Regions from separate parts of the Homo sapiens genome. Here regions 1, 2 and 4 are each linked to region 3. Evidence: fine-mapped expression QTL. A gene starts in region 3. Each other region holds a variant in brackets. All regions are shown on one strand. Distances are from middle to middle.

Region 1 (2,683 bases), 27 kb before region 3:
GTTATAGTGTTTAATTTTTCACTTTAAACAGTTATGATACTATGGCATATTTATTAGAATCTAGAAATAGTTTTGTTATTTAGAATGTTTCAGTCAACAGGAATTCACCTGTCACCACTGAAACTTGTGGTAATGTTTCCAAAGATCTCCCATCCCATATGCCTTTTTGCAATGTGACTTACCACTCTCCCAACAAGGAATGAAGTCTATTTTCCTCCCCTTGAAACTAGGCTAGATAGACTTCATGTTGCTTTGACCAAGAGTGTGATGGATGTGACATTGTGTGACTTCTGAGCCAAGGGGGTGAAAAAGCCTGATGGATCATTGTATTGTGGCTATGTAAGGTTTGGGGAAATCGGGATGAAAGGTATACAGAACCATTTGTATTATCTTTGCAATGTTTTTCTAAGTCTGAAATTGTTTCAAAATTAGAAGTTAAATCGAAAGTTTTTTGTTTCATTTCTTTTTTAAGGCTTTTATTTTATGTTCAGGGGTACATGTGCAGGAAGGCCTGGCAGATTCCATTCTTGCATTGTAACATGGAAAAAACCCACCTACTCTGAAACTCTCATGCTGTGACAGCAGCACTGAGAGACCATGCAGAGGGACAGAGACAACCAACCCTACGCTGTTTCAATCATGTCAGCTGAAATACCAGACGTGATTTTTTTTTCTTTTTGGATTTGAGATAATTTCTTGTTATAATGAGCCAGAATTACAAGGTTCCATTGGAACTGAAACAGCTGACAGAATAGGGTTGAAGTTAATCAAATCTTCAAGGACAATAAGATCAAACAAAGCCAGTAGAAGTGGAGAAACCCAACACTGGTTTGGAATGCACACAGAAATACTAGCATGTAGGTGCCTCCTGACCCCTCCCAGCAGTTGGACATCATGCTCCCACCCCTTTCTCCCTTCTAAAGCACTGGCCAAACCAAATGGCTTCTTTCTCTGTATTGCAAGTGTAAGTCAATCCAAGAGTACCCTTTTGGACATAATACAAAGCCAAGAAGAAAGTTGATGGATCATATTGGACGGTAGAAAGTGTACAAATCCAACCCAGCAAATTGCTTATCATTATCTACGTTCCAGCCTCAGTAGGTGCCAACAAGGAGCAGAGATGAATCAATCTTTCTGCTCAAGCCCTGTCCAAATTATGGAACCTCTAAGATTGGGGGTGGTTTGTGACGTAACAATAGATAACCAAAACATACATCAACCTTCCACCTATGGCAAATGCCTTAAATTCTGCTCTGGCAAGATCTGGCTGCCAAATGGACCTTTTGGATCTAATCCTTAGGGTGAGATCAGTTTCACATTGTTCTTTGCTAAGTGCTTTTGTTTCCAGAGTTCATTTTATACAGTACCACTGCTCTTATTTCAATAAGATTTATCTTCAGTATAACTTAAGAATATTAGCAGGCCAGGCGCAGTGACTCATGCTTGTAATCCCTGCACTTTAGGAGGCCGAGG[A/C]GGGTGAATCACCTGAGGTCAGGAGTTTGAGACCAGCCTGGCCAATACAGTGAAATCCCATTTCTACTAAAAATACAAAAATTAGCTGGGCTTGGTGGCGTATGCCTGTAATCCCAGCTACTCGGGAGGCTGAGACAGGAGAATCACTTGAACCTGGGAGGCGGAGGTTGCAGTGACCCGAGATTGCGCCACTGCACTCCAGCCTGGATGACAGAGCAAGACTCCGTCAAAAAAAAAAAAAAAAAAAAAAAGAGTATTAGAGGATTCCCCCACTTTCTGGTAGGAGGGTTTTCTTCTCCCTGCAATGTTTGTTCCCTCAGAATCCCTTTTTTCTGTTTGGATCATCATCTTTTATCTTGGAGGCTTTCTTTACTCAGATGTCTGGTGAACCTCCGTTGCTGGTTAATATCTAAGGCTAAGGTTCTATCACTTGTAGCCTTAAGAGTCTTGACCAAAACAAACAGTGAAAGCCTAAACACTAAGAGCAAGGTTGATTGAATTCAGACATAAAAAAGCTAAAATGGACTGTACATAAGGTAGACACTATTGAATCTGGAGCAAGAAGAAGGGCTCTGAAAGAAGTCTGTATAGGGTGCAGTTGAAGCAAATAGGAGTGGTAAATTCTACTGGAGGTATAGTATAGGTAAGCAAAAGCTTCAAGGAAGAAGAGATATTTTCTTTTGATCGCCAGAGATGTGTAGGGTAGGTTGTGGCAGAGTGGGAATGAGAGGTGGGAAGTAAAGGAAGCAGCATGAACAAAGTTAGGGTATATGGACCAGTATGGCAGGTTAGAGGCCTTACCTACATATAGACTACCTAGATGATAATATTCTGGATTTCAAGCTGATGTAATTATTGGATGAGACATCTAGTGGTGGTGGAAGGGGGTGGATATATTTTGCATATGAGGGGGATGTAAATTGTTGAGAGCAAAGGGCAGAATGTGGTGGACTGTTTGCACAGACGGTCACCAATTCCTCTCACCCTGTATTCACATGCCATTCCTCCAGGATGGAGTCTATTTTATACAAATGTTTATAACAGCCATTATTCATTATTCCTAATAGCCATAAAGTAGAAACAACCTAAATGCCCATCAACCAATGAAAGGATAACTAAAACGTGGTATATCCACAATGGAATATTATTTGGCAATAGGAAGGAATAAAGTATTGATACATGCTACAACATAGATGAACCCTGGAAATAT
Region 2 (2,683 bases), 81 kb before region 3:
ATCTGGAATTACTCTCTCCCCACTCTCACCTCTCCTCTTGTTAATTCCTGCTCATCCTTCAGAGCTGAGTTCTCAAGTCCCTCTGTGAGTTCCTTGATTCCATCAGATGTTTCCTCCATCGAAGACCATGGTTTCCCTCAGATCCCTTATTACAATGGTAGCTAAATGTCTGTGTGGCCTGCAACAGTATAATCTCCAGGGATAAGTGTGTGCTTTGTTCGCTTCTCTACTGTTGGTGCTCTTTGGAGTGCTGAGTGCCCAATACCTGTTGGTTAGATGAATTATGTGCCAGTTCTTGGTGCTAGGGTTATAGCATTAATCAAATCAGACATGATCCCTACTCTTTGGAGCTTACACTGAGATACAGACAATAAAGAAATAAACAAGAAACCATCATGTAGTAAGGGTGATGTTTTAGAGAGTTACTGGAGACCTTCTTTAGTTGAATAATTGGGGAAGGGCTTTCTGAAAAAGTGAAATTTCAGCTAAGATGTGAATGAAAAGAAGCAGACAGCCACCTAAAAGTATCTCAAGGAAGAACATTCCAGGTGGAGGTCACAGAGAAATATTACACAGAGAGATATTCCTGTCTTAAGACAGAAATAAGTCTGCTGGAGCTGTTTAAGCAAGTGAAAGGGGGACAGAGTAGTAATGAAGTGGAGGGGTTGGCAGGAGTGAGGCCATGTGGAGCCTGAGCACCTTGGTTAAAGAGTCTGGCTTGTTTTCTAAGTGTGAGGTGAAACCATTAGAGGCTTTTTTTTTTTTTTTTGAGATGGAGTTTTGCTCTTGTTGCCCAGGCTGGAGTGCAGTGGCGTGATCTCGGCTCACTGCAACCTCCACCTCCCGGGCTCAAGCGATTCTCCTGCCTCAGCCTCCTGAGTAGCTGGGATTACAGGCGTGTGCCACCATGCCCAGCTAATTTTTTTTATTTTTAGTAGAGACAGGGTTTTTATCATGTTGTCCAGGCTGGTCTCAAAACTCCTGACCTCAGGTGATCCACCTGCCTCAACCTCCCGAAGTGCAGGGATTACAGGTGTGAGCCACCACGCCTGGCCCATTAGAGGTTTTTTGAGCAGAGGCTAACTTGATTCAGTGTGAGAGTGTCCACGACACACCTCCAGGCAAGAGATGATGGAGGCTTGGACTAGGACGAGGGCAGTGGTGCTAGATAGAAAGAAGAGTAGAGTTTGGGAATATATTTGGAAGTAAGCTAATAAGATTTGCCGATGGATTGGATGGAAGGTGTGGGGATTGAGGAAAAGAAAAAAATCAGGGATGTGCCATGTAGGGTCATTCTTGAAAAACATAGCTTTTTTTTTTTTTTTTTTTTTTTTGTCATTTTTTGTTTTTTACATTGAGCAGTTGGATGAGTGCCATTCACTGAGATGGGGAAGTCAGGGAGGGGTAGGGGTGGGGGTGACCATAAATCAGTTGTGTTTGTTTTAAACATATTAAAGTCTGGGTTTGACATCAAAGAGGATATGTTTTATAAATAATTGGATATGTTAAATCTGGAATTAAGGGGATATAGGGTTGGAGATACAAATTAGGAGTCATATAATGTTTAAAGCTATGAGATGAGAGTATTGGTTTTGTTGTTGTTGTT[GTTGTTT/T]GAGATGGAGGCTTGCTCTGTCACCCACGCTGGAGTACAGTGGCTTGATCTCAGCTCACTGCAACATCTGCCTCCTGGGTTCAAGCGATTCTCATGCCTCAGCTTCCCAAAGTGCTGAGATTACAGGTGTGAGCCACCACACCTGGCCGAGATGAGAGTTTCTAAGAGGGAGTGCAGATGGGGAGAAGAGGAGGAGTTCCAGGACAGCTTCTTGGGAAATGCAGCATTCGGAAGCTGAGCAGAGGAGGGGTAGTCAGCAAAGGAGAACTTAGAAAGAGTAGCCAGTTATGTCGGAGGAGAATAGAAGTGTGGTGTCATGAAAGCTAGAAGGAGAAAGTGTTCCAAGAACTGTGTTGAACACTGTTGAGAGGTTGAGTAAGATGACAGAGAAGCACCCATAGAGATCATTGGACTTGAATCACAGCCAATTCATTAGAGGAGGTAGAAGTGTGATTGGAGAGGTCTGAGGAGCAGATAGGAGGGAAGACAGGGGAGGCAGCTGCCTTAGAAAACCGATTCAAGAAGTTTTGCAGAAAAAAGGCAGTACTTTCAGGGGACTGAGAGGTAAAGAAAGGGTTTTTTAATGGTTTGCCTCACCAAGAAGGATCTTGCAGAGTAAGAAATAGAAGATTAAGAAGAAAGGAAGGTTAATGGTAAGAGTGAAGTTTCTGAGAAGGTATGTGGGGATGAAATCATTGTCTAAGTGGAAGGGTTGTGTGTGTGTTTTTGTTTTGTTTTGAGACAGGGCCTTGCTCTGTCACCCAGGCTTGAGTGCAGTGGCATGATCACGGCTCACTGCATGCAGTCTCAACCTCCTGGACTCAAGTGATCCTCCTGCCTTAGCCTTCTGAGTAGCTGGGGCTACAGACATGCACCACCATGCCCAGCTGATTTTTTTATTTTTGTAGAGATGGGGGTCTCGCTGTAGAGATAGGGTCTCACTAATAGGTGGGTGATATTCTCGGCCAGGGTTCTGTAAATTACAGCCCAAGGGCCAGCTGGTCTCAAACTCCTTCCCTCAAGTGATCCTCCCACCTCAGCCTTCCAAAGTGCAGGGTTGTATTTTGATTC
Region 3 (2,683 bases):
GCTGCCCTTGGGTGGGTCCTTTCATAAAAAGGAATTTTTAAAAATCTGCTAACATGGTTACTCCACAAAGTTTACATGTATCATATTGTATAAATCTATAAATATGTACAATTATTTTTTGTTTAATTTCTAAAAATTTGCCAACAATGGCTGAAAAAGGCACCTGGCTGCCTGAGCCCCTACCCTTGTCGGTTACAAGTATTTCATAAGCAGGGTTTGAGGAATCCCATCAGAGAAGAGTGTTGTCACCTTTTTGCCGGAATGTCACACCAACTTCCTCAGTGTTCCCCTCACACCAACTTCCTCAGTGTTCCCCCTACCCCAATCTAGCCAACGTTTCAATGGCTCCCCACAGCACACAGTGCCTCTCAGGTGGGCACTCAAGGGTCCTTTCCTAATCCTCCCTAACCTAATTCTCCAAACTTTTTTTCCCCCAAAACAGCCCAGCAGACGGTCCAGTCAGTCCCCAAATCGTTTTTCCTCATGGTCTCCTTCCCCAGGGGTCCTCCCCTCCTTCTCTCCCCCCTGCAACCTCCACTGCTACCGGGAGATTAGTTCCCACCCGTCAGGACCCCGCTCAGATTTCACTTCCTCCAACAGGTCCGCTCAGATCCCAATCCACGGCTCTCAACAGCAGCCGGGATTCCTTTCCCCCGCAACGCCTTCTCTGAACACCCCGGCCTCCGAGCGCCGGCTTTGCGTTCCCTAGTTACTTCCAGTCACTAGTTACTTCCGCTCCGCTCCCACCCGCGGGACTCGCGACCTGCCCCCTGCCCCCGGCTGGCCCAGCTCGGAATAGGCAGAGCAGCGCCTCAGAAATCGCAGCCCAAGGCGAAGAAATCCAGAAGCCTCCCGCGGACGTCCCCCGGGACGGGGTGTGGCGAGCCCCGCTCCGAGCCCGCCGACTCCTCGTGAGACGAGAACCGCAGCGACGCGGAGACCCTGTGAGTCCACCGCCGAGACGCGCGGCGCGGCGACCAGGAGCCCCAGAGTAGCCGCGGGGCGCCGGGAGGGATCCAGCTGGCGGCAGCAGCTTCCCTGCCTCCCTGCCCCTCCCCAGGGGCTGCGCGAACCCCTGCCTGAGCCAGGCCAGCCCGGGTGCCCCCCAGTTCTCAGGGCGCTCCCCAGGGAGCCCGGGGACGCGCCCTGTCCGTGCCTGATCCCCGCCCTGGTCCCAGCTGGGTCGGGCCAGGTCCGCTGCACCTCACCTCTCCTCTCCACGAACCGACTGGATAACGGTCGGGTCTGAACCTGAGGAGCCCGGACCAGCCCGCAGTAGACTTGCCGCACCTGTCTCAGAGCAAGTGAGGAGCAGCCGGGCGCCTGACGTCACGGCCGCTCCCAGCGCCGCGAACCGGGAGTCACCTGATCACCCTGGCAACGCGCGCGGCGCGGGGCGAGGCGAGGCTTGCGTCACAGCACGAGCCCCGCCCCCAACTGCTCGGCCTCCAAGCGCCGCCGGAAGCGCTCTCTTGCAGTCGGCGCAGTCGGGAGGCGGGGTCGGTCTCCGACTTCCCAACGTGGGCCTCCCAGCTGCGCTGGATACTTAGGACTCCCACAGGCGTCCCCCTCAGATTGGATTGGTTCTCCGAGACTCCACCCGATACCCCAACTCCGCTAGTTCAGGCGCCTGGGAGGCAAGACCAGCGTCCATGCGGAACCCTGCTCAGTGCGTGGCATGAGGGGTCGGCTGTGGGCTGCTGCCTCCTCGTGTCTTGTTGGTCCAGACCCAACTAGGGTTGGGGGCTTACTTCCCGAGCTGTACCTGAGCGGAATGGGGCTGAGGCTGATAACTGGATTGCTCTCTGGCTACTTTTCCCCATAAACCTTGCAACAAGTAGTCCCGCCAGTACTTTAGAGTGTAATGAGACTTCATTCACATCAGGAGGGGGAAGGGGGACAGAATCTTCTGTCCTGAAGGTTTCCTTCTTCTGTTCCAACAGGAAGAGAAGTTACCGAAAAGCTCCCAGAGCAAGGCCTAGAATGAGCTTGCAAGTCCTACTTGCAAAAAATTTTTTATTTTTCATTTTAGAAATTGATTTTCTCTCCATATTCCTCCCCTTGCTTGCTATTAGGTTGGTGCAAAAGTAATTGTGGTTTTTGCATTTTTTTTTTAAATGGCAAAAACAGCAATTACTTTTGCACCACTCTAATATAAGTATATGCCTACAACTTTTGTTACTCTCTAGGCTTCCCAGATAAGACTATCAGCTTCGAAATGAAAATTTAACATCCCCTGGAGGTCTCAGTGTGAGAGTCACTGCCTATTTCACACCTTCACTATTTGCTGACTTTCATTTCAGTTTTACTCTCCTCATCCCTGCACTGCCAAGAAGGTTTCATATGTATTGAAACCTTCCCTCTCAAGAGTTTAGGATCTTAGACCAAGAAGTTAGTTTATAGTCAACTTCTTGTGAGCATCTTTTAGTGTCAGGCAATGGGCCATGGGCAGATTGAGATGTGGTTCTCGAAGATCAAACGTGTATGGGTGGTATGTCTCACATAAGTACAACTTGTACTGTTTATTATGACTTAATCATTGTATTTAAGTGGCACTTTTTAATTTTCACACTTAAAGAAACTCATATAAGTGGGAAAGAAGACAGCTGTGAAAGGTAGAGAAGAACCATGGCTCTAGACAGAGCTGTACTAATAGGAGAGAAGAGATTGAAAATGTGAGCCC
Region 4 (2,683 bases), 21 kb after region 3:
TCCAGGCAACCAGACGCACCAGCCACCAGCACGTCAGGGGAGCTGAGAGCATAAGCTATGTTATCTGGGTCCTGGGCACGTATCGCAGCTCTAAGGCTTGGCAGCTTTGGCAAATTTCTTCACCTAAGCCTCAGTTTGCTTGCCTATAAAATGGGAGCAATAATAATAACACCAACCTCATCGAGTGTTTTGGGGGACTTAGTGAGATAATACACGAAACGTCCTGGCACATAATGGGCACTTGACAAACATTAGTGTTATTATGTATTCTTTCTTTTTTTGAGACAAAGTTTTGCTCTTGTTGCCCAGGCTGAAGTGCAGTGGTGCAATCTCGGCTCACCGCAACCACCGCCTCCTGGGTTCAAGCAATTCTCCTGCCTCAGCCTCTCGAGTAGCTGGGATTACAGGCATGTGCCACCACGCCCAGCTAATTACAGGCATGTGCCACCACGCCCAGCTAATTTTGTATTTTTAGTACAGACGGGGTTTCTCCACGTTGGTCAGGCTGGTCTCGAACTCCCAACCTCAGGTTATCCACCCGCCTCAGCCTCCCAAACTGCTGGGATTACAGGCGGGAGCTACCGTGCCCGGACTATATATTCTTTTATATAGGCCTTTATCTTTTATAGCTCCTTTGTCACAGGATTCTGCCAGTTTGGAGATAAGGAACCTGAGACCCAGAGAGGTGAACTAACTTGCTTAGGGTCCCACAGTTAAAAAGCAGAGGAGTCGGGATTTGAAGCCAAGTTTCTTTGACTGCAAAGCCTGTGCTCCTAGGAGGTGAGGGAGGGAAGAGATCAGTGGCTGCCTGGGAAGAAGCTGGGCTCCTGTTCAGTCATATTTTCATGGATTCAACAGATGGGTGTAAATCTTTCTGGGGCTGAGGGTGGAGTACACATCCTCTTTTTCTAAATGTGGGAGTCAGGCAGGGCTCCCGCTGGTCCCAGTTGCCCCAGCCATGATGGAGGCAGAGCAAGCAGGAGTGGGGAGGAAGAGAAAGCCACTCGGGGCAGGGAGTAACTGAGTCCCAGGGGCTTGGAGTTGGGCTGAGGCCACTAACGGAGCCCTGGCAAGTCTTTCTTGCCAGCCTGAGCCACAAATCTCTGCTCACTCTCACCCCTAGGAGTTTGTGGCGCCCCCTCCCTTTCCCACCTCAGCCTGGGACCCCTCCTTTCTCTCCTCCTCCCTCCTGAATGCAGTAATCCCAGCTAACAAAAGCGACCATGGCTACTCTGACGTGTGGGACGACGATGCTAGCCAGGCCGTGCCAGGTCAGTATGCCAAGCTGGGCTCAGGCCCCTTCCCACGTGCCAGGGTGCACTGGCCCTGCTGTCTGCTCCCTCCCCATGAAAACCCAAGCAGCCCTCATTTTTGAGACAATGGAATTAAACAGCTATGGGACAGGTGGAAGTAGGGGGCTGTGAGAGTAGGGAAAAAGTAGAACCTTCCTGAGCCTGTCCTGCCTCCTCTCCAGCTCTGGAAGGATGGGCTGCAGACCAGGGCTTGAGAAGGAAGAGGTCAGATGGGTTGCAGAGTGCAAAAAGGACTGCCCTAATTAGAGGCCTCTTAAATTCTCTGAGCCTCAGTTGCCTCATTTGTTAAATGGAATTAATAAACTCTCCTGAGGTTTG[G/T]TTGGATTAAAAAAGATAATGAATGAAAAATACTTAAGCACAGGGCCGGACACATAGCAAGCACTGGATAAATGATCTCCCTTGCCGCTGCAGGGGCTGCTGGTGCTGTTACTGATGCAAATTCTGAGCCGTGGCCACGCACACTTTGGCTGGCCTCCAGGGGACGGTCAGCTAGGTCCGCTGGGGAACCTTCCTCCCTGCCTGGTCCCACTAATGATGACACCAGGTCCTTGGGCCTGATGCAAGAAGATCAGATGTCCTGCAAGGGAGAGTCACCATCTCCTACCTCATCCCCGGCACCCCACCCCCACCTTACCAGAATGCAAGGTGTCCTGGCTAGCCTGCAAGGTGGGATGGGGACCCTTTAGCTACAGGCTGCCTGATTTCTCCTCCCTTCCTCTCACTGCTTCTCTGCCTTTAACTTTTCTCTTTGCCAATGCCAGAGACCTGCTTTCTTATGCCAAGGAGAGAGAGAGAGGAGGAGGGAGGGGGCTGGGGGAGGGGTGAGGAGATGGAGGAAGCGCTCCAGTGCATAAAGAGGAAGGGGCTTCCTTCCGCTCTCTGTCTTTTCATTGTCAAGTTGAAATTGGTGACATTGGGTAGTATATTTAAGACATCTGTCCCCATGCCCTGCCACTCCCTTAGGAAAAGAGCTGCTCTCTGTTTGCGTAATAGAAGAATAGAAGCTTTAATAAAAGTTTTATTAAATAAAAGAAGCTTAATAAATAAAAACTATTACACAACAACAGAGTCTGCGGTCCCATTGGCCACCTGACCACTCACTTCCGGACTGGGGGCTGTTGTGCCCATATCCTGGCCTGTGTCCTTCCGCTCTGTGGGGCGCAGGACAGGGCTGGACCTGGTAGAGGCAACAGTGCAGGCTTGGGCCCGGGCTGGGGCTGAAATCCTGACCCTCGGCCCTTTTGGATAATAGCAGCCTGAGCAGGGGGTCCTTGAGAACTGGGATCACCAAAGTCCTGGTCCTGAGGCAGGATCTTTTCAGTCCCTCCCACAGGTGGGGCCACCCCTCTGCCCCACCAAGTTGCCCCAGA

Alleles and levels. Alleles are on the strand shown, and positions count from the first base shown. SD is a standard deviation of normalised expression in the study named. Not every link is listed here.
For the expression in tibial artery of the gene that starts at base 1,306 in region 3, G is the high allele of the variant in region 4 and T is the other (moderate effect, 0.41 SD a copy in GTEx).

Evidence for each region. PIP is the estimated chance that this variant, and not a neighbour inherited with it, causes the effect. A credible set is the group of variants that fine-mapping cannot tell apart.
Region 1: its variant is the best candidate, but not a certain one, in a credible set for the expression of CYSTM1 in whole blood (TOPMed, PIP 0.63).
Region 2: its variant is the best candidate, but not a certain one, in a credible set for the expression of CYSTM1 in whole blood (TOPMed, PIP 0.54).
Region 4: its variant is the best candidate, but not a certain one, in a credible set for the expression of CYSTM1 in tibial artery (GTEx, PIP 0.67).

What each region holds. Positions count from the first base shown.
Region 1 is chr5:140,200,974-140,203,656 of GRCh38, reverse strand. All of the region lies in intron 2 of CYSTM1 (cysteine rich transmembrane module containing 1), which reads right to left. Among named protein-coding and RNA genes, the nearest start is that of CYSTM1, 27 kb to the right of the region's middle. The variant A/C (reference allele first, on the strand shown) is at 1,474.
Region 2 is chr5:140,255,310-140,257,992 of GRCh38, reverse strand. All of the region lies in intron 3 of PFDN1 (prefoldin subunit 1), which reads left to right. Among named protein-coding and RNA genes, the nearest start is that of PFDN1, 46 kb to the left of the region's middle. The variant GTTGTTT/T (reference allele first, on the strand shown) is at 1,607.
Region 3 is chr5:140,173,811-140,176,493 of GRCh38, reverse strand. CYSTM1 (cysteine rich transmembrane module containing 1) reads right to left here and starts at 1,306. Exons shown (of 3, transcript NM_032412.4): 1 at 1,209-1,306. RefSeq lists a silencer at 919-1,208 and an enhancer at 1,499-1,728.
Region 4 is chr5:140,152,643-140,155,325 of GRCh38, reverse strand. It overlaps LOC124901086 (a long non-coding RNA gene), which reads left to right. Exons shown (of 4, transcript XR_007058964.1): 3 at 1,200-1,271. Among named protein-coding and RNA genes, the nearest start is that of CYSTM1, 21 kb to the left of the region's middle. RefSeq lists an enhancer at 656-1,315. The variant G/T (reference allele first, on the strand shown) is at 1,632.